Linked DNA regions of Homo sapiens. The protein of the gene in region 3 interacts with the protein of the main gene of each other region in a biochemical or structural test. Each region holds a gene or a part of one and is shown on either strand. Other genes may lie near its edges.

Region 1 (7,026 bases), on a different chromosome or scaffold from region 3:
TAACAGAAGGCAATTGGAGTTTGTATGAAATATTTTAGGGTTCATCTCTTGGGGAGTTAGCAAAGGAGGAAGGAAATGTACTAGCTCAGGAGTAGATGAACTGGAAGTCCTTTTTTTTGAGACAGGGTCTTGCTCAGTTGCCCAGGCTGGAGTGCAGTGGCGTAATCTCAGCTCACTGCAGCCTCAACCTCTTCGGCTCAAGCAATCCTCCTACCTCAGCCTCCCGAATAGCTGGGACCATGGGTGCATGACATCACACCCAGCTAATTTTTCTATTTTTTGTAGAGATGGGGTTTCGCCATGTTGCCCAGGCTGGTCTTGAACTCCCGAGCTCAAGCAATCGAGCCACATTGGCCTCCCAAAGTTCTGGGATTACAAGCATGAGCCACCAAGCCTGGCCAAAAAATCAATTCTTGCAGTAGCTATGCTAGCTATTTGGGAGTGAAGCCCTAGAATTACACACTTCCTAACACTTTCCAGAAGATGGCAATGGCCAACTTCAGTTTTGAATCTGCTTGTACATCAATTTCCATCCATGGCTTTCTCCTTATTGGAGACAGGCTGTAATGAATGAGATACATATGGACATTTCATTATCTAAAGCAGAAATCACCATTAAGCAAAATTCATAACATAAATTGTAATAACCAGCAAAATAATATTTGATGGTCAGTCTTTTCCCTCTGTTGACAGAGGAGAAATCTACAGCTACTACAGACATTGGCTTTGTTGATTTATCTTTAGGTAGCTGTCATTAATCAAAACACTGGGATACTGTCAGAACCCAGGCTTGACTGCAGGAAGGAATTTATTTTACTGGGAAATGAAAGGGCTAGGAGAAGGATGGGCTCCTGATCCTGGGCGCCTGATATGGTTTTTATGAATCCATAAAGAAACAGAAGGTACTGAAATGCTACAAGAGACAATTGCAAGGACATAGCAGCTATGCCACAATTCTGGGAAAAACAATTGGCTGGGTAAGAAATGCAGGGTCTCAGGGGAGTGTTATTTGGGGGGCAAAAAAAAAACAACTAAAAGGCAGTAGTGTTGGGGAATTCTGCATCAAATGTTTCATTTCAGAGGCAGCAACTGTCAAAGGATGGAGCCATCTGGCTCAATTCAGCACTAACATGAAATGTCCTTGTTACGTTCTCCCACCGCCTGATCCCAAAGCCAAGAAGGAAAAGGGTCTCAAACACTCAGATATCCTGACAAAAGTCCCATTACCCTCTTCTTCTGTTCCTTGTTCTGATCACCCTTTGGTTCAAATCCCATTTACTCTCTTCTCTATCTTCATTTCTTCCACCCGCTTAAGTAACTTTGAGCTACATGTTGACTGAAGTCTCCTTTCACTACCTGTTGAGTGATGTCTGCTTTTATCTTAACTTCTCATTTGTGTTCCTTGAAGATTTGGAGGTATTAATAGACCATCCGTCTCTCTACAGTTCTCTAGCTGTTCCTCTCCTGACTGGCACCTCTGGATGCCAGAGTGGGTATGCATTAAAACCCTCACACCAGACTGGCCTCCCCAACCCAGGCCACCGAACACCATGAGCTCATAGCAAGTCTGAGCCAATGTCTACACAGAAAAAGCTGAAGCTGATGTTCCATCTTCAAAAGGAAGCACTCCTTGAAAGAAAATGGTCAATTACTGCCCCGCAAATCAAACACTGTACAGAATTTGCCTAAGTGATAAACTGGGGGAGAGAAGGGGGAGTAAGGCGTTGCAGGCTAATTACAACAGAAAAAGCCACATCCCACAGGGACACTTGAATGGAGTGTAATGGATGATTAGAAATGAAAAGGATGGATGAAGAGACACCAGCAAACCGTGTGACCACAATAATAACAATAATCTACGCAGAGTAACACAAATACTGGAGCTCATTTAACTACAACTCTTAAAAAAATTAAAAACTTACCAGCAGCTTGGAAAGCTACAAAAACAGATTAAAAGAACAAGAGTTCAGTACACTGATGTGGACACACATATCAGCTATTAAATAGAAACTCATTTTGTCATACTTCCCCCAGGAAGCTCAGCATTTGGGAACAGTAATAGAAGGGGGATTCTATAGACTTTTATTACAGCAGAAATAGTTTTAATGGAGACAAATGAGGAAGGCAACTTTTAAATGGCTCTGAAACTTGACTAGGGCTTTCCCACTGGCTGGGCTTACTGAAATATTTCTCACTGACTTCCCATGGGTGCAAGGAGATTGTTTTATAAATGCTTTATTTAACAAAATCTACTCAATAACATAAGGCTACATCAAGACCAACACCCAGTCACTTCAGCTTACCTGGATGTTGGTGGGATCCTTGTACGACTCATCACTCGCTGTTTGCAATTTTTCACTGATCCAAGCCTCAATCTCATCCACATCCCGGCTGAACTGTTGGAGGGTTTGAGATTCTCCTAGCTTTGACCTTTTCTCAATCATCTGGGCTTTCAGACGTCGCCACCTGAAAGAGTGAAACCATGAGATCCAACATGAGCATATCTTACCGTGGAGAAGGAAGTGGGGAGACAGAACAGGCCTGGGCCTTCGTATGAGGGGATGCATCCTCTCAGGGCTGGTGACTATGTCAGTGCCACAGGACACCCACCTGTCCAAGACCTCATTGCGCCGGCTAGAAATGTCTCCCTTGGCATAATGGCCGGCAGCGATGAGCTGGTCGGCAAAGGCCTGCAGAGCAGCAATCTTCTCTTCCTGTCAGAAAACAAAGGCATGAGATCAAGGTGGGCCTGTGGCTGGGCCCTGCCTGGACTGCCAGTCTTGAGAAAAGGATAGTTATTTTGGGTGACTGAGAACTAGCTGGTGGCAGGATCAGAATACACTGACACTTTAGAAGCAAGAGTGTAAAATGCCAAAAGAAAGCTTGATTTCATTCATTACTAGAGTAGAGTTTAACTCAAGAAGTCTCCAGGTCACTCAGGTGGGGCAGGTGTTAGAATATCAGAACAGAACAAAATTAAGCCTGATAATAGGAAAATGCTGTCAGATTTACAGCAAAGTGACGTATAAATCAAACAGTTTTACATCTTCCTTGTTGTTTGTTCATTATTCCCTTACCTACCCACACATTTGTTTTCCATCCCTTTGATAATATTTTTTTTTCCTGTGGCACCCCCATTATTAAAATCTCAGAAATACCAGAATCTATAAAGTTTTAAAGATTATTTATGTACATATTTTTCTTAGACAACGCAGGTATTCCTTGGAGATATAACAGTGACTATATAAGCCAAGAAACAGATGTCAATCAGGAAAAATCCAGACTCCAACTCCATGGTCCAGAGGCCTCACCTGGACGTTAATCGCTTTGTCAAAGTCTTCATGTTTTTTGATCAGAGCCTCTACGCTGTCCAGTGAGTCTCCTTTGTCTTCGGTATTCAAGAAGGCCTCCCGGGCAGCCATCCAGTTCTCAGCTTGCTCACAGTCCCGATGGAACAGCTAAAGAGGGCAAGAGGCAGGTGAGAAAATGAGGCCCTTCAGCAAGGAAACACTTGGTCAGAAACCAGGAGCACACACACCTGCAGTTCAAGGCACTGATCCAGCATCATCCTGCGCTGAACCCAGGCCTTCTCCAGGTCTGCACGCTCCTGGTCAAGAATATCAAGTTTCTGCTTGATCTCAGGGCTGGCATAGTGTCCGTGAGCCAACAGCTGCTGTCCAAACTGCTCAAATGCCTGGAAAGTGCCAGCCCTGGCATCGATTTCTGTCCGGTGTTCCTGCCAAAAGGAGGGAAGGGATTAGGTAACTGGCAGCAGATGCCCACTCTGACGTCAACCACCGACTCACCACAAAGGGTGGGAATGAGGCCTCTAGGGCCCTGCAGAGCAGCCACGTCTTTGCTACTCAGCAGGCAGGTCCACCCACCTGGTGTCGCTCCAGCAATGCCTCAGCTCCGGTGACATCCTTGGCTAGCTCATCTGAGGACACCAACCCCCGTATTCCATTGATCCAAGACATGAGGTCCCTGGAAACCAGCACCCCAGAAAAATAGCTATTATATTACCTGGTAAGGAGATCTTCTGCCCAGGAAAACAGAGAATGACATAATTCTTGCCTCAGAAAGTTATCTTGGGTTAATCTGATCTACTGAATGAGGCTAGGTCTTTGGGCAAAGTGTTAAAAAACTTCTTGTTATTTTTTTAAAAGTCCGAATTTCTCAGAGGAAAAGTCAGTAGGCTTATAATTAAGATCTTTTCACCCTCCAGAATAACAAGTTCTAGCTACAATTAAGTCTTTGATAGCTTCAAATGAAAAAGCTTTTGTTGGCCAGGCGTGGTGGCTCATGCCTGTAATCCCAGCACTTTGGGAGGCTGAGGCAGGAGGATCGCTTGAGCTCAGGAATTCAAGATCAGTTTGGGCAATGTGGTGCAACCCTGTCTCTAAAAAAAAAAGAAAAAAAAGAAAAAGCCTTTCTTTAGGATTAACCCTTGAAGCCCTAGGCCTGGGCATACATTTGATCCAGTTTCTCACAGCTGTACAACCACAAGGGCACAAAACTGAGTGTGTAAGGTCAGATATGGTATGATTCCTTTTATATGACATGTCCAGAAGAGGCAAATCCATAGACATAGAAAGCAGATAAAGGATTCCTAGTGGGTGGGGAAGAGAGAAGAGGGGGTGATTAGTTAAGGAATGTTATTCTAGGGCAATGAAAATGTTCCAAAACTAGAGAGGGGTGGCTGCACAACACCGTGAATACATTAAATGTCATTGGATTGCACATTTTAAAGTAGTTAATTGTATGTTACGTGGCTTTTACCTCAATAAAAAGAAGAAAAAGACAACCAGGCGCAGTGGCTCACGCCTGTAATCCCAGCACTTTGGGAGGCCGAGGTGGGTGGATCACCTGAGGTCAGGAGTTCGAGACCAGCCTGACCAACATGGAGAAACCCCGCCTCTACTAAAAAAAATACAAAATTAGCCGGGCTTGGTGGTGCATGCCTGTGATCCCAGCTACTTGGGAGGCTGAGGCAGGAGAATCGCTTGAACCCAGGAGGCGGAGGTTGCGGTGAGCTGAGATCGCACCACTGCACTCCAGCCTGGGCACAAAAGCGAAACGCTTCCCCCCCCAAAAAAAAAATATATATATATATATGTCTAGGGAAAAATATAATGTCATATGGCAAGGAGATGAGAGGGAGTATGCCCATACTTGGATAGGAAAGTAGAGACTTGTTTTTTTTTTTTTTTTTTGAGGCAGAGTCTTGCTCCATCGCCCAGGCTAGAGTACGGTGGTGCGATCTCGGCTCACTGCAACCTCCGCCTCCAGGTTCAAATGATTCTCCTGCCTCAGCCTCCCGAGTAGCTGGAATTACAGGTGTGTGCCAGTGTGCCACCACGCCCGGCTGGTTTGTATTTTTAGTAGAGATGGGGTTTCACCATATTGGCCAGGCTGGTCCTGAATTCCTGACCTCGTGATCCACCTGCTTTGACTTCCCAAAGTGCTGGGATTACAGGCGTGAGCCACCGTGCCCGGCTGCAGAGACTTATTTTTAACAATATGGCATTCAGTAGTTTGACTATTTTACATTGATTATGTACTACTTTTTTCTGTTTTTAATTTTTTTTTTTTTTTGAGATGGAGTTTCACTCTTGTTGCCCGGGCTGGAGTGCAGTGGCACGATCTTGGCTCACTGCAACCTCCGCCTCCCAGGTTCAAGCGATTCTCCTGCCTCAGCCTCCTGAGTAGCTGGGATTACAGATGCCTGCCACCACACCTGGCTAATTTTTGTACTTTTGGTAGAGACGGCATTTCGCCATGTTGGCCAGGCTGGTCTTGAACTCTTGACCTCAGGTGATCTGCCCGCCTTGGCCTACCAAAGTGCTGGGGTTATAGACGTGAGCCACTGTGCCTGGCCGTTTTTGATTTTTAAATTAAAATTTTATAATAGAAATAGGGTTTCGCCATGTAGCCCAGGCTGGTCTCCGGCTCCTGAGTTCAAGCAATTCGCTTGCCTTGGCCCCCCAAAGTGCTTGGATTATAGGTGTGAGCCATTGTACCCTGCTGAGCATGTACTATTTTCACAATAAAAATGACCCCTACAAAGAAGGCTCTATGTTCCAGAAGTCTGAGTGAACATGGCTCCGTACCGGAAATCGCTAAGGAAGCGCTGCAGGTCGTGGGAGTCACCCAACTTTGCCTTGCGCTGATCTGCACGTTTCCCCAGGCTGCTCCAGGCCTGGTTTAACTCTGTGCACTTTTCCTGCAGGTCTTCTGCTGACTCGGGATGGGACTGGATCAGGCGCTCTGCTGTTTCACCAAGGGAGTTTACCTATGGGAAGAAAGTGGTGAATGAGCTTGCAGTAAGGGGGTATGCTCTGCAGAACAGAAGACTCTGCTCTTTCTGGGGCAAAAATGCCAGACAGAAGATGACTTTGGGTCCTCTCACCTTGTCACCGAGAGCCGCAAGGTCCCTCTCGAAGCCCTCATGCTTGCGTTGCAGGGCCTGGACACTGGCGAGATCATGTCCATAATTGTCTGTGTTTAGAGCTTGATTCTTCTCTTCAATCCATTCTTTGGTTTCATCAGCATCTCTAAAGGCGAGACACATTCAGGTTAAGAAATGCCAAGTACAACTGCCTTGATTACAGGACACTAAAAAAAATTTATTTATTTATTTATTTATTTATTTACTGAGATGGAGTTTCATTCTTGTCACCCAGGCTGGAGCACAATGCACAATCTCAGCTCACTGCAACCTCCGCCCCCACCGGGTTCAAGTGATTCTCCTGCCTCAACCTCCCAAGTAGCTAGGATTACAGGCGCCCACCACCATGCCCAGCTAATTTTTTTATTTTTAGTAGAGGTGGGTTTCCCCATGTTGGCCAGGCTGGTCTTGAACTCCTGACCTCAGGTGATCTGCCTGCCTTGGCCTCCCAAAGTGCTGGGATTACAGGCATGAGCCACCACGCCCAGCCTAAAAAAATTTATTTAGCTGACATTTGTATATTTGTCTGTGGCTACCACCAATAACTCTAAAAAGCCAAATAATTCACTTAGCAGGAT
Region 2 (7,026 bases), on a different chromosome or scaffold from region 3:
ACTCTCTTTCATCTATTCTATTACTCCTTCTTCTTTCCTCTCTATTGCTGATCACCTCATTATTAATGTAACCGAGTCAATTTCGCCTCAAACTATTATATTTGATGCTTGCCTTGTTATACCCTGTGGAGACTTGACACGTCGAAGCAGCTCTCCACTCCAAAAAAGTACCTCTGTCCTTCCTGGCTCTGCTCAGACTGGATATTAGTGAATCGGGATCATTTAGTCTGGAAAGGTTTCAATAAAGACCCCAATGTCAACTGGGAGTATTGCCCCCCACACCCCGCCAAGACAGAGCTTTTATGCTGCAGTTGGTCCAATGTTCTGTAGACCAATAAAGAGCACAGATGGACTGCCCCAACCAGTAGTTGTAAACGTTCTGTAGACCACTAAAGAGCACGGATAAACTGCCCCAACCAGTAGCTGTAATTTCCTAAAGCCATACATTCACTTTACTAAAGAAACAGCTTCCCCTAGCTGTGAGCTAAACCAGTACTGTCCAATACAGGTTATTATCTCAAACCCTCCAAGTTCTTCCCCTTCTATAAGCCGGTTCCCTTCTTTAAGCCAGTTTTATGGCATGGGGGCTGAGGTTTCAGGAACAGAACCTATTGGATCCTTTGAAATATGCTGCATTGATCCCCTACTGCCTACACTTTCCCCTAAGCCTTCTTCCAAAACCTCTCACAACAAAACTATTGCTCCTCCTCCATCTAATGAAAAGACCAAGGTAGCTATTGTAGAAGTTAAAGACCTAAAACAAACTTTGGCAACTGAGACAGGATATCAAGATGTGAATGCTCTTAAATTTAAAACTCGAGATCAAATAGCTGCAGGATTTGAGTCAATATTTTTGTGAGTGACAACTAATAAAAACGTAGATTGGATAAATTACATTTATTATAATCAGCAGTGGTTTATAATTACACCACGGATGCTGTCAAAGGGTAACAGAACAATTGGGGCCCACTAGCCAGATGGCCTGAGAAAACAGAATGGCCCTAGATATATTAGCCAAAATAGGGGATGTTTGTGTTATGATTAAAATTCACTGTTGTACCTTTATCCCAAACAACACTGACCCCACTGGGAACATAATAAGCGTCTTACAAAGACTTACCGCTTTATCCAATGAACTAACTAAAAATTCTGGAGTCGATAACCCTTTCTCAACATGGCTAGAGAGGTAGTTCAGTAAATGAAAAGGAATCATAGCCTCAATCCTTCTCTTACAGCCATTATAGGTGTGCTCATTCTTACAGGATGCTGTATCATACCCTGTACTCATAGTTTAGTGCAAAGACTTATAAAAACAGCTCTCACCAAAACCTTCCTCAGCTCTCCTCCACCTTATTCAGATAAACTCTTCCTTCTCCTAGACATGCATTGTGTCATAATGGATAGCCTTTCCCTTCCAGCCTAGACAGCTGGGTTCAATTTCAAACATTAGTCAACTGGGTCACTTTAGATTGTGCGGTCCAACCCTAGCCAGTAGGGGAAAGACACAACAGTGGGGACCAGCTGTGTTAAGAATAAGAACCTCTTCCCCTCCCTTGTCCATCTCACGATTGCTCCATCTGCAAGACACACCCTTCTACAGAAGTAAACTGCCTTGCTGAGAAAACTTTTGCCTGAGTGCTATTTTCACTTTGCAACACTGAACATTCACTTCCAACAATCACATCTCTAATAACTGCTAAGTACAACTAACTTGCTTAAAATAAGTGATACATAATGTACAAGTACTTGACCAGACAGCGAAAGAAGGCAAATACAGGTTGAGAGGCCTTTATACAGAATGCTTGACACCAGACTGGGATTTTTTCAGATTTGCAGATATTTGCCTTTTTACCTACTGGTTGAGCATCCCTAATTCAAAAATCTGAAACATTCCAATGAGCATTTATTTCGAGTGTCATGTTGGCACTCAAAGTTTTAGATTTTGGAGCATTTCTGGTTTCCAGATTACAGATACTCAACCTGTATAAAATATTCATAGCCACTAGATTTCCAAATGTACGGAAATACCATAACAACCAAATCAGCAGTTAGAAGACAAAAATGAGTTCAAAATGGCATCTCAGGAATGACCTCCTTGAGAGCAGGGCATACATCACCTGTACACTAGGTACCACACCCAAGATACTTAAATGTGTACTGAATAAAAGAAAAATAAAGGTAAGGAAAAAAATAAGAATGAGACTGATAATTTCTACTTGGAATGTCATCTATTAATTCCTACTTATAAACCTTCACAACATGGACCTATTTCTCTAGGTTAAAAACAGGTTGGGCAAGGCGGCTCATGCCTGTGATCCCAGCACTTTAGGAGGCCAAGGCAGGAGAATCACTTGCGCCTTGGAGTTCGAGACCAGCCTGGCCAACATGGCGATACCCTGACTCTACTAAAAATACAAAAATTACCTAGGCATGTGGCACGCACCTGTGATTCCAGCTACTTGGAGAACCTGGGAGGATGAGGTTGCAGTAAGTGGAGATTGCACCATTGCACTCCAGCCTGGGTGACAGACACTCTGTCTCAAAACAAACAAACAAACAAACCCCAAAATCCCTAGTACACTGCTATGGTGTAGCATATGTACCAAATCTTTTTTTTTTTTTTTGAGACAGTTTTGCTATTGTTGCCTAGGCTGGAGTGCAATAGCGCGATCTCAGCTCACTGAGACCTCCACCTCCCAGGTTCAAGCAATTCTCCTGCCTCAGCCTCCCAAGTAGCTGAGATGACAGGTGTGCGCCACCATGTCCCGCTAATTTTTGTATTTTTAGTAGAGATGGGGTTTCACCATGTTGGTTAGGCTGGTCTCAAACTTCTGACCTGAAGTGATCCATCCACCTCGGGCTCCCAAAGTGCTGAGATTACAGGCATGAGCCACCGTGCCTAGCCTCAAATCTTTACTATCTATTAATACTACTATTAGTCTTATCATGATATTCAACAAGCCTAATTTAAAAATCAAAGGTTAATCTATTGACTTGTTTCCTCTTTTGATCCACTATCTAATGAATACATTCATTGCACTACACAAGCTGTTTCGTTTATGCATATGTGTGTTAACACTAACTTATTTTGATGTTGCCTTTTTCTCCTAAAGAGCAAACTAAAAGAATAAAGGGCCCTAATTCAGCATTTCTCACAAAATGCTAATTTCATACAATGTGCTACACAAAGCAAAACAAATGCTTTATGTGGGAGATTTATGGGGGAGATGGTCAAATAAGACAGAAATACTAAGTAAAAATTGTAAAAGGCTTCTGCAAGACTTCTCATCACTTTAGTAAATATTATGCCTTGTGAATTTCAAAAGGGGAGCAGGGGATGCCGGTCATTCTTCTCAACTGATGTGGTCCTCCTTAGATCTTTCCACACTAAGTTTGTGAATAGATGAGCTCATATTTAAATGAACTGCTATCTAAAGATAATGAAAATAAACGTATTTGTAGTCTCACTATTAACATTTGTCAAAAATCTAACCACATTGAGTCAAGAATTTACAGACATTAGGTCTGAGTTAAGATATTTTTTAAAAGTACTTGCTTGAGTCATCCACATGTACCCAGAAGTTACCCAGATTCAAGAATTATGAGCAGATGACCTAAAAAACAAAAATTCTATCTCTTTTTTGTCACTGGCTAATGCCCAATTCAATGGCATGGATCCTGTAGCTACTCAAAAGGAAGGGTAATTCAGAAGGAACAGCAACAAATAAATTTGTCAAATCAGTCAGGTAAGTCTAAGGTACCAATACACTAAATTTCTCTGCAAGGCCTATATCCTACTTTGTTATTTTTTCCTCTACATTACCTCTACATTACTTATAATACCTTACACAATGTAAATGCTATAAAAGTTATTATACTTTATTTTTAAAAATTTGTATTTTTTTGTTGTTGCTTTTTTAAAGACTATTTTCCATCGCAGTTGCTTGAATCTCTGGATACAGAGGGTCGACTGCAAATGGAAATATTTTAGTTTTATTCTCCAAACAAAAATTATTTATTTCATCTTATTTATCTTCCATTTTTGTCAAATGAAAAAGTAAGAGTAAAGAGGCAGACACTAAAAACAAGAATAAGTAGTAACAACGTAAAGTCACAAGTAACCACTGGAAACAGTCACATTTAACACTGACTGACTTATGGGCTTATACTGCAGGAAAGAATACCTGTGTATTTGTTTCATTCATTCAACAAGTATTTTACTGAGCACCCATGATGTGCCAAGAACTGTGCTCAGCACCTATAGGCTTCTTAAAAAGTACAGAACATAGCCCCTGCCCTCTAAGAGCTTACAATCTATTACTTGTTGGAAAATTAAAGCAAATTAAGAAACCATAAAACAAGTCAATAACTAGGTGCCAAAATAAGTGAAACGGTAAGAGTTATGGGTAGATTACAAATATTTTCTTTAATAATCTGAAGGGGAGGTATATGTTGGCAAAAGTCATTTTTGAGAAACTTTTGGAGAAGGCAGGACTTGAAATAGTACAACATAGGTAAGCAAAGCAAACTTCATGGTGATACTGAGCTGGGGGCAGGAGGGTAAGAAGAACAGCCTAAGTTTGAAGTTGTGAACTAATATAATCACTCAAGACACCGTGAAAAGACCAGCCTAAGTTCAAATTAGGGAGTGTAAAGACATGCAGCCTTGAATCCTGCTTTGACATGTACTATGGGGAGGTTCTTTAAAGTTAAGCTGTGGAATTTAGATACTATGTTATAGGCACTGAAAGTACTGGAGATTCTTGGGCAAGGAGATAACACATTGAAATCTAAAATTTGTGGGGGCAGGGGGGCATCCTTGAAGCAAGAAAACCAACTCAACTCAAAAACTGTTGAATAACCTAGGCATGGGAGAGTGACGACTTGGGCTCATGTGGTAGCAGGAACTGAAATAAAATAAGATCTATTAGAGCCAGCCTTACTCAATATAGGAGCAAGAAAATCAAACTCATTTGTAAAAAGCAATTATTCATTTATCAGTTTACTGACCAAAGACCAAAAAAAAAAAGCACTGAATAAATAGAATTAGGGAGGCATTACTAAAGGAATTTTCTGTTCTTTCCATATCATCCCATAAAATCTGATATCTACTCTTATCAAATGATCTGAACTGAATCATAGGATGTTAGAGCTGAAAGGGACCTTAACTCAATTACTCTACTCTTCTCACTGATAGAGGAAAATAAAGACTCAAATAGGGAGGAAAAAAAAAGAGCCAGCTAGCATGACTCTGGGGCAAAGGCATAATCATCTGTGATAAAGATGGCAGGACCTGCATGTCCTTTGTGTAGAAAACACAAAAGACATGAAAACAGTATTTACTATGGACACTGAGGAAGAAGACAGCCTCACACATAATTTTATTGATAGAAATCTCTACAGAAAATCTTTATTTTTTTGAGATAGGGTCTCACTTTGTCACCCAGGATGGAGTGCAAGGCGTGATCTTGACTCACTGCAGCCTCGACCTCCCAGGTTCAAGCAATCCTTCTGCCTCAGCCCCCTAAGTAGCTGGGACGACAGACGCACACCACCACACCCAGCTTATTTTTAAATAGTTTTTGTAGAGATGGGGTTTCACCATGTTGCCCAGGCTGGTCTCCAACTCCTGAGCTCAAGCGATGCACCCGCCTCAGCCTCCCAATGGGAAATTTTTGAGTACTGCCATCCAGCAGGGAAAATTCTTTATCTTTCTTTACTAACATTTAACCAGTGATCCTCAAAGCATCTTAAATCACATATTATTTAAAGCTTAAACAACCTGTAAGGTCCCTTTCAGCTATAAGATCCTATAACTCTAAAAGTATGACTTTCCTATAAAGTTATATAGAATAAGAGGCAAATTTAATCTACAAGATAGAAAACTGAAATAAACCTGAAAGAATATTAAGCTCAATTTGATAATCATCAAATATTTATTACTACTAAGAGTCAGCCTAAATGCATGAGATGGCACTCTAGGTCATCTCATGAATTAAGAAAAAAAAAATTTGAACACACCACTTCTTTAAGCTAAATAGCTTGATGCATTTGAGAAATTATGAACCCTGGCTTCCGTACATCATTATGCTACCCAGTCTGCATATTATTTTACAAACAAGTTTTACAGTTTCATGTCATATTGGTAACATTCCAAAGACCACAATTATTTGGCAAGTAAGACTGCCACCAATTTTAGTCTTTAGCTAGTCCCAGCATGAGATGTTCATGCAAACCAGTCAACACATGAAGGTTTTTATAACCTTCAGTCCCAAAGTCTAAAGAATTTGTGAACTGACTTTTTTAAATTGCATGGCAGAACCCTCCCAACTGTCACTACTGTGAATGATACAGACAGACATCCTGCTTCTTCTCAATTATCTTCTGACCACTTATTCCTCCTGAGTACTTCCAAGAGTGGCAGAAGAAATAATGCAGGAAAAAGGATCAATTGTCCTATTTATTATCACCTTTAATTTTTAAAGCAATGTTTACAGAGTTTCAAATATGATTTCTGATTTGAGAATTCAAATTATCCATGCTCTCCCAGTCTGTTATAAAGCTAAAACAAGAATTTGTTTTACCAAGATTTGGGACCCATATTTGTTAGTGAAATATTAAGGGGATAAAAGGGAATTATATAATTCTGACAAAAACAGCGGAGATTCTTTTGGGACTTTCAGGGCATAACTCCTACTAAAACATTTATTTATTATACTAACAGGAGCCTTCAGAGGGAGAAGAATTCTAAACATCTAAATAATTAGGTCTACTTAAAGGCACGTGGCATATATTAGCCTAGGAAAAAGTAGAAGAAAACCACACCAAAAAAATCAGTTATTTGAATGGATGTGTACCGAGTAGCAAGTAAACTTACTAGAAAGATGGTCACTGATACAGCTAAAGAGAAAGGGCCATAAAGCAAACTGTGACCAGCTTATGTCAATGAGATACATGAAAGTACTTTTAAAAAATAAAATCTGCATTTTTTTTTTTAACTAGAACTATGACTAGCTGGTATCTTGG
Region 3 (7,026 bases):
AAGTCCTGACTTGTTTACCTTCAACATACAAGCAACAAAAGTGAATCTTAAAAGCTGGGCTGAGAACCATCAGTAAGGAGCCTCCTGGATGGGAGCGGAGCAGCCCACACTGAGGTGCTCACACAGACCTGTCTGGGCACTCCAGTGCAGAGCAGAGCTGGGGTCTACCCACAGAGCCCCAAGACAAGGCCCGGCACACAGGAGGAGACAGGGGCTTTCTCCTTTGCCAAATTCCAGTCTCTCTCTGAAGCACATCACTTGCTAGTTCAGAAGAGCCCCTGCAGCCATGCAGCTTGGCTCTGGTAACATAGGTGACATCTTCACCTGACTTCACACAATGCTCAAACCACCATCACGAGGTCATTATCACATTTATTCCCACTTCTCATTGTGTGGCTCCCCCAAGTCACACAGGGAGTCAAGTCAGAGACACTGCTGGACAGGACCCTGCCTCCTGCCATCTGGAGGCCTCTCCTTCCAGCTCTCGGAGAACTCTCTCACACTATGAACTCCCCTCTGCCCACAGGCAGCCCCACCCTGTCTCCCCTCAGCCTGCCCCAGCCTCGCCATTCTGCTCTTGCCACAGACTTCTTGCCCTCCTTCTTGCCCTCCTCGCCTCCTGTGTGAAACTTCTCCCTTGGCTGCCATGACACCGCATGGCTTGGCTCTTCTCTGGACTGCCCCTTTTCTGACCACTGTCTTTCCCAAGGTGGAGAGGGGCAGACAGAGAGAGAGTACTTTAGAGAAAGTCTGGCTGGCTGGTGCCCACCAGGAAGCAGTGCTGTGCTGGGAAGCAAGGCTGGGTACAGAGAGTTAAGGCCAGCCCTCACCATGGAGTCAGCGCGGGGAAGTGAGAACACTGTGGACAACAGCTCCAGCTCTGCCCCAGGTCTGGCTCTATTGTTTGCCAGCAACAAGACTTCAGGGAGGTAAGTTTACAGCTCTGTAAAACAAGTAGAATCATCTTTTTGCATTTTCTTTTACCTTTGCTGGAGATCAAATAAGGCTGATGAAATAAACAGGAGAGCAGTTTACTAAACATGATTAGCACCCAGCAGATACTATCTTGAAAAAGGACAATGTTGGCTGGAATGAACAGCAAATCCATATGAGGCAAGACTTAGGGTGGAATCTACATGAAACTGCCTTCCGTGTCCACATGGAGAGCTGTCATTATCACCTACTACTCTTTTAACTTCTAACGAGAAAAACAAGGTGGCAGGTTCCTCACTGTGGCCTGGAGAATTGCCTCAGGCCTCACCAAGTGGGAGCAGGCTGTCGGGTCCTGTCTGTGGAATGGCCCAGATCAACTGTGGAGGTCACTGAGGGCCCGCTCCTGAGCCCTGGCTGTTGGGAAATCAGTTTCCGGGCCCTGATTTGCTCCTGTGCTTTCCTCTAGCCTCTACTCACACTGCTCCCCGACCCCCCGCCCCCACCGCCCCCGGGGGTGACTCCCTGAACCCACTGAAGAGAATGCTAATGCACACCCTCGGGCCCCTGCCGCTCCCCTCAGCTGCTTAGCTTTTCTGCAGAACACTTACCATACTTGCCACTGAACTGAGGGGCAAGTGCCTCCATGAGGCAGGTTGTTTGGTTTGGTTTTTAAAGTAGTGTTCATCTCGGTAGCTCTAGTAACTGGGCCCTAGTGGTTTCTCAACAAATATCTTTGAATAACTGCTGGCTTTTATGTTTGCTGAGTTTTGCCAGGTATTGTATTTCTCAGCCTCCACGGATTTTTGTGGTGGGGGTGGCATGACTTACTTGAGATCTGGCCACCTCTGCTTTCTCTTTCTTTCTTCCTGCATTTATTTGAAAAATAAAACAAGGGCCGGGCACAGTGGCTCACACCTGTAATCCCAGCACTTTGGGAGGCCAAGGTGGGAGGACAGCTTGAGCCCAGGAGTTCGAGACCAGCCTGGGCAACACAGATCCTGTCTCTACACAAAATAAAAAAGTGTTAGCCACGCATGGTGGTGGGTGCCTGTAGCCCCAGCTGCTCAGAAGCCTGAGGTGGAAGGATCCCTTGAGCTGAGGAGGTTAAGGTTGCAGTGAACCGTGTTTGCACCACTGCACTCCATCCTGGGTGACAGAGCAAGACCCTGTCTCCCCAAAAAAAAAAAAAAAAGAAAAAGGAAAAAGTGCTGTACGTGCAAAGTGTCACAAGAGGAGGGCATTTAGTTCTGCCCAGGGGACCCAAGGGATGTTGTCATGAAGGGGAAGCAAGACTTTTCAAGAGGAAACAAAGAACCATTTCAAGCAGAGGGAAGAGTGTCAGCAAAGGCAGAGTGGTGGGTGGGGGGACCTCAGTCATCACCCTGGGGCCTCATCACTTCTCAACACCTACCCAGGTGAATGAGGAAGCACACCCACGTTGCCATGTCCCAATTCAGTGACCGAGAAACAGAGACGCTTGAAATCACAGCCGCATCAGAACTGAAAAACATTCTGCAGTGATTTTCTTAGGAAACACGCCTGGAGAGGGAAGTAACCTGCCCAACGCCCATGGCTGATCCGCGGCAGAGCCTGGACTAGACAGCAACCTGACGCTCCGCCGTGCAGTAAGGCTCTTCTGCTCCACCTGGCGACGCAGCAAAACCCAGCTCCAACTTTTACTTCCTGCTTTGAAGCTGTTTTTCACTCCAACTTTTTAATCTGAAAAATTTCAAACCTACAGGAACATGTAAGGGACACTCTTTTACCTTTCACTAAACCTGCCCATGGTTAACATTTGCCACATGTGAGTTATCTCTGTCTTTCCCCTGAGCCATTTGAAAGTCAGCTGCAGATACCATGATACTTCAGTCCTAGGGACCTGAGCATACATTTCTTTAATATAAGGATATTCTAATATATAACTTAAATACCATTGTTACAACAAAGAAAATCAACACTTTACTAAAAATCTAATACAGAGTCCATACTAAAACTTACCCATGTAATCCCAGCACTTTGGGAGGCCAAAGCAGGTGGATCACCTGAGATCAGGAGTTCGAGATCAGCCTGGCCAACATAGTGAAACCCCATCTCTACTAAAAATACAAAAATTAGCCAGGTGTAGTGGCGCATGCCTGTAGTCCCAGCTACTCGGGAGGCTGAGGCAGGAGAACTGCTTGAACCCAGGAGGCACAGGGAGGTGTAGGATGCACTGAGCGGAGATAGCTCCAATGCACTCCAGCCTGAGCGACAGAGGGAGACTCCGATGCAACAACAACAAAAAAGTTACCCAATTTTTACAAAATGTTTCTGATTTTTTGGGATGTAGGATCTGCTCATGGATTACATTTGATCGAGCCGTCTGCTTACTCCCTTTCAAGCTAAGCTAGGATGTGAAACTATTTAAAAATTTTTCATTGATAAAGATGTTGTGTGTGTGAAGAATTCAGGCCAACTGAATGTAGACTGTAGGTTGGTTAAGAGGTGACTGCCAGATCTCCAATGGAAAGCTATATTTTCCCCTTAGTAATTATTAAATCATTTATAGGGTGCCATTTTTTTTTCTTAATGGGCACAGGTGTGAAACAGGTTTCATGCTATGAAGTAGACTTAAAATGTTTATTGTGAAGTACTTCAGGCCTGTGAGAAGTAGGTTCCCACGATCCCACCACACAGTCTAGGAAATCTGACAGCAAGTCATAAAGCTGTTTAGTTCAAGTGACGCCTGCATCCTCCTCCCAGACCCAGAGCCCCTCCTCTCTACCAGGGGGAACCGCCACCTTGCAGGTGGTATTTTCAATTCCATGCTTGCTGTCTGTAGTGCAGCCATACAACTGACTATTTTACACACATAGTTCTCAAACTTTTTTGGTCAAGAGAACCCCTTTACACTCAATTATTGAGGATGCCAAAAAGCTTCTGTTTTATGTAGGTTAAGTCTATCCATATTCACCTTATTTGAAATTAAAACTAATAATTTTTTAAAACACAAGAATATACAAGCAGACATTTCATTAGCTGCCACAGTGATGATGTCAAAACATCACATAGCTCTGGAAAATTCCACCATGAATTCATGAGACAAGAGCTGAAATGGCAAATGATGTCTTAGTAATATTATAAATACAGTTCTGATCTACAGACTCCTAGGAGGGTCAATCTCTGGAGTACATTTTGAGAACTGCTGCATTACAGCAATGAAAGACAATGAATTAGCTCTCTGCATATTAACATGGGAAACCCAAATGGTGACTGAGCCCCATTTTTGAGAGTGTTAGAATTAAAGAAAGGCTTTGGGTAAATAAAGTCTACATTCAGTGTTAAACCCTGACACCTTCTTTTCTATCCAAATTGGTTGCCCACATCATGGGCAATCAAGACGTTTGCCTTTTCTCCTTGGATGTCACCCTCTCAGATGCCTGGACAGCTGGTCTCCATTACTCTGTGAAGTCTGGTGCAATCTGGAAAAACACTCCAACCAACTGTTGGGGGAGTCTGACATTCCTAGACTGACCCTGTCTCATATGCATCTCCCATACTCTTTCAAGGCCACCGGCGTAGCCCTTTCTTTGGGGAGCCATCTGACAGCCACGTGGACGTTAAGGCTACTCAAACCTCAAAAACATTTATATATTTTGCTCTGTGTCTTCATCTCAAAATTTGTGTCCCCAGAGTCTGTGACTCTGATCACTTGTGAAGTGGAACAGGTTTTAGCACAGCCTTGGGACAACTGTAGAGGCCTGGCTTGGGCCAAGGATTGGGACAGTATGTTCAGCTCCAAGGATGAATCAACAGCCTGGGAATGAAGACCCCGGCTCTGCCCTTACAAACACCCCTGAAGACACAAGTAGCCACTTGGACTCTGTGCTATTTACTAGGCACAGGGACAAACATGAATGCATAACACAAGCGTCCTGCTCTGAAAGAGCTCTAGGCTGGTAGGAGAGATCCTGAGCCGACAGAGCATCGACAAGAGATACGCACGCAGGCACGGGGTGCTACAGGACAGACGAGGTCTCTTTTGTCTCTTGTGGTATTAACAGCACAGAATGACGGAGACTGCAAAATAGAGATCAGGAGGGCCTCGATTCTACCCTTGACTCTGCAAATTGGGACAAGTTTAGCTTTGAGAAGTTAAAGCTGAGAGGGCAGATTTTGATCCTCTCAGAGATCAAAAGCTCCGTCAAGTGACAACAATGTGACCTGGAATACGATACTTTGTAGGCCCTTGTTTTCTTTTCTTTTTGAGGTAGGGTCTTGCTCTGTCACCAGGGTGGAGTGCAGTAGTGTGATCACAGCTCACTGCAGGCTTGAACTGCTGGGCTCAAGCAATCCTCCCACCTCAGCCTCCTGAGAAGTTGGGACTATAGGCTTCAGGCATGCACTATCACATCTGGCTAATTTTCATTTTTTAATTTTATTTTCTTTCTTTCTTTTTTTTTTTTTTTTTAAGAGAGGAGGTCTTACTATGATGCCTAGGCTGGTCTTGAACTCCTCAGCTCAGGTGATCTACCTGCGTTGGCCTCTCAAAGTGTTGGGATTACAGGAGTGAGCCACCATACCCGGCCAACCCTTGTTTTCTTATCTGTAAAGTGGCAATAGTGATACCAGACCTCAAAGGATGAGAATTAAATAGTATGTATATCATGTAACTAGCGTAATGGTTGGTGTATAACACTGAGAAAAGCTGAGCTGTTGTTATTTTCCTCCTCTGTGGGTTCAGTTACCAAAGCAAAGCCATTGGACTACACTAGTTCTCATCCATTTTCTGCCCCAGCCCACCTGAGTATCGTAACATTCTCATGAGAATAACCTAGAATCTCCAGAGGAATGTTTCTCAACTAGAGGCACATGGGATTCTTTGAGACAGAGGAAGGCAGAGAAGCTTCAGAAGCTCTCCAAATGATTTGGCTACAGGTCTCTAGGGAAGTGCGGGTTCCCATGGAGAGTGAACGGACTACGTGATCTCTGAGGGCTTGTTCAATTGCCTCTGGGACTCTCTGACTTGCCCGTGAGGACTGGAAATACCTGTGAGAAAGGAAACACCAGGTGTTCCTGGAGACTCCTCCAAACCCTCACACAAAGGCGTACAATTAGGTGCGAAGGATTGTAAGCTGAACCCCGGCTGTGCGAGACTTCTTATATCTTTACAGCTTCAAGATGTGCAGCACAGTGGAATAAACAGTAATGACTGTGCCCAAGCAGCCACAGCTCCTTCACTACCTGACAGCAAGTGAAATGTCTGTTTTTCTGGTCTCTTCTCTAACATGCCACACCAGGAAGCTCCACTGAGTAGCAACTTTGGTAGCACAGGAATCTTTAGGACCATATATCAAAGTAGTTAATTAAATCCAGCAGTTCAATAAATGTGTATTGCCAGGCAATGTTTTAGGCACTGGGGATACACCACTGAACAAAATAGGCGAAAATCCCTGCCTTCTGGGAGTTTACATTCTTGAGGGGTAAAGACAGTATACAGTAGAACAAGTAAGTTCTATAATACGTTAGAAGATAGTACGTGCTTCGGAAAAACCCACAGCCTACCAAAGACAACAGAGAGACCAGGGAAGGAAACGAAATTAACTGGCTGGCCCCAAAAGTGGCAGACATATCACACATCCATATCACGTTTCCTGCTGCTGCACCGCGACCTCAGCTACTTCCTGCTCAGGTCAGCCTTGTTCAACCCACATTTCCTGGGAACCTGTGCTGCTAGGCCCACACCTCTACAGATTCTTCCAGCTAGCACCCCAGCTGCCCCAGCGTGGTGAAAGGAATCACCACCCACCTAAGCCATGTCTGACTCATGTTTCCCCCACGCCCATGTGTGATCCACCAGATAGTCCTGGAGGCTACAGCACCACGGCACTTCCTGAATCTGGTGACTTCTCACCGCCTACCCTGACTGCTCCACTGCTGGCCCAAACCACCCTCACCTCTTACCTGGATGACTGCGGTAGCCTCCCAAGAGGTCATCCTGCCTCCATTCTTGCCACACTGCCAGCCATTATCCACACAGGGCCCAGAGTGATTTTCTTAAGCTTCTATGAGATGTCTTTCCCTTTGCTTCAAACCCTCCCTCCAAAGGCTTCC

What was found. The genes of interacting proteins can lie anywhere in the genome.
Region 1: the proteins of EVL (region 3) and SPTAN1 form a complex in vitro, tested with the Homo sapiens proteins (one study listed by IntAct).
Region 2: the proteins of EVL (region 3) and PRPF40A form a complex in vitro, tested with the Homo sapiens proteins (one study listed by BioGRID).

What each region holds. Positions count from the first base shown.
Region 1 is NC_000009.12:128,604,562-128,611,587, reverse strand, and holds part of SPTAN1 (spectrin alpha chain, non-erythrocytic 1), read right to left. Parts: intron 6,555-7,026; coding exon 6,410-6,554; intron 6,293-6,409; coding exon 6,111-6,292; intron 3,985-6,110; coding exon 3,885-3,984; intron 3,737-3,884; coding exon 3,539-3,736; intron 3,459-3,538; coding exon 3,312-3,458; intron 2,715-3,311; coding exon 2,611-2,714; intron 2,467-2,610; coding exon 2,304-2,466; intron 1,938-2,303; coding exon 1,923-1,937; intron 1-1,922. UniProt on the Homo sapiens protein: Fodrin, which seems to be involved in secretion, interacts with calmodulin in a calcium-dependent manner and is thus candidate for the calcium-dependent movement of the cytoskeleton at the membrane.
Region 2 is NC_000002.12:152,707,461-152,714,486, forward strand, and holds part of PRPF40A (pre-mRNA-processing factor 40 homolog A), read right to left. Parts: intron 4,908-7,026; exon of another isoform or gene 4,844-4,907; intron 1-4,843.
Region 3 is NC_000014.9:100,068,420-100,075,445, reverse strand, and holds part of EVL (ena/VASP-like protein), read right to left. Parts: intron 1-7,026. UniProt on the Homo sapiens protein: Ena/VASP proteins are actin-associated proteins involved in a range of processes dependent on cytoskeleton remodeling and cell polarity such as axon guidance and lamellipodial and filopodial dynamics in migrating cells.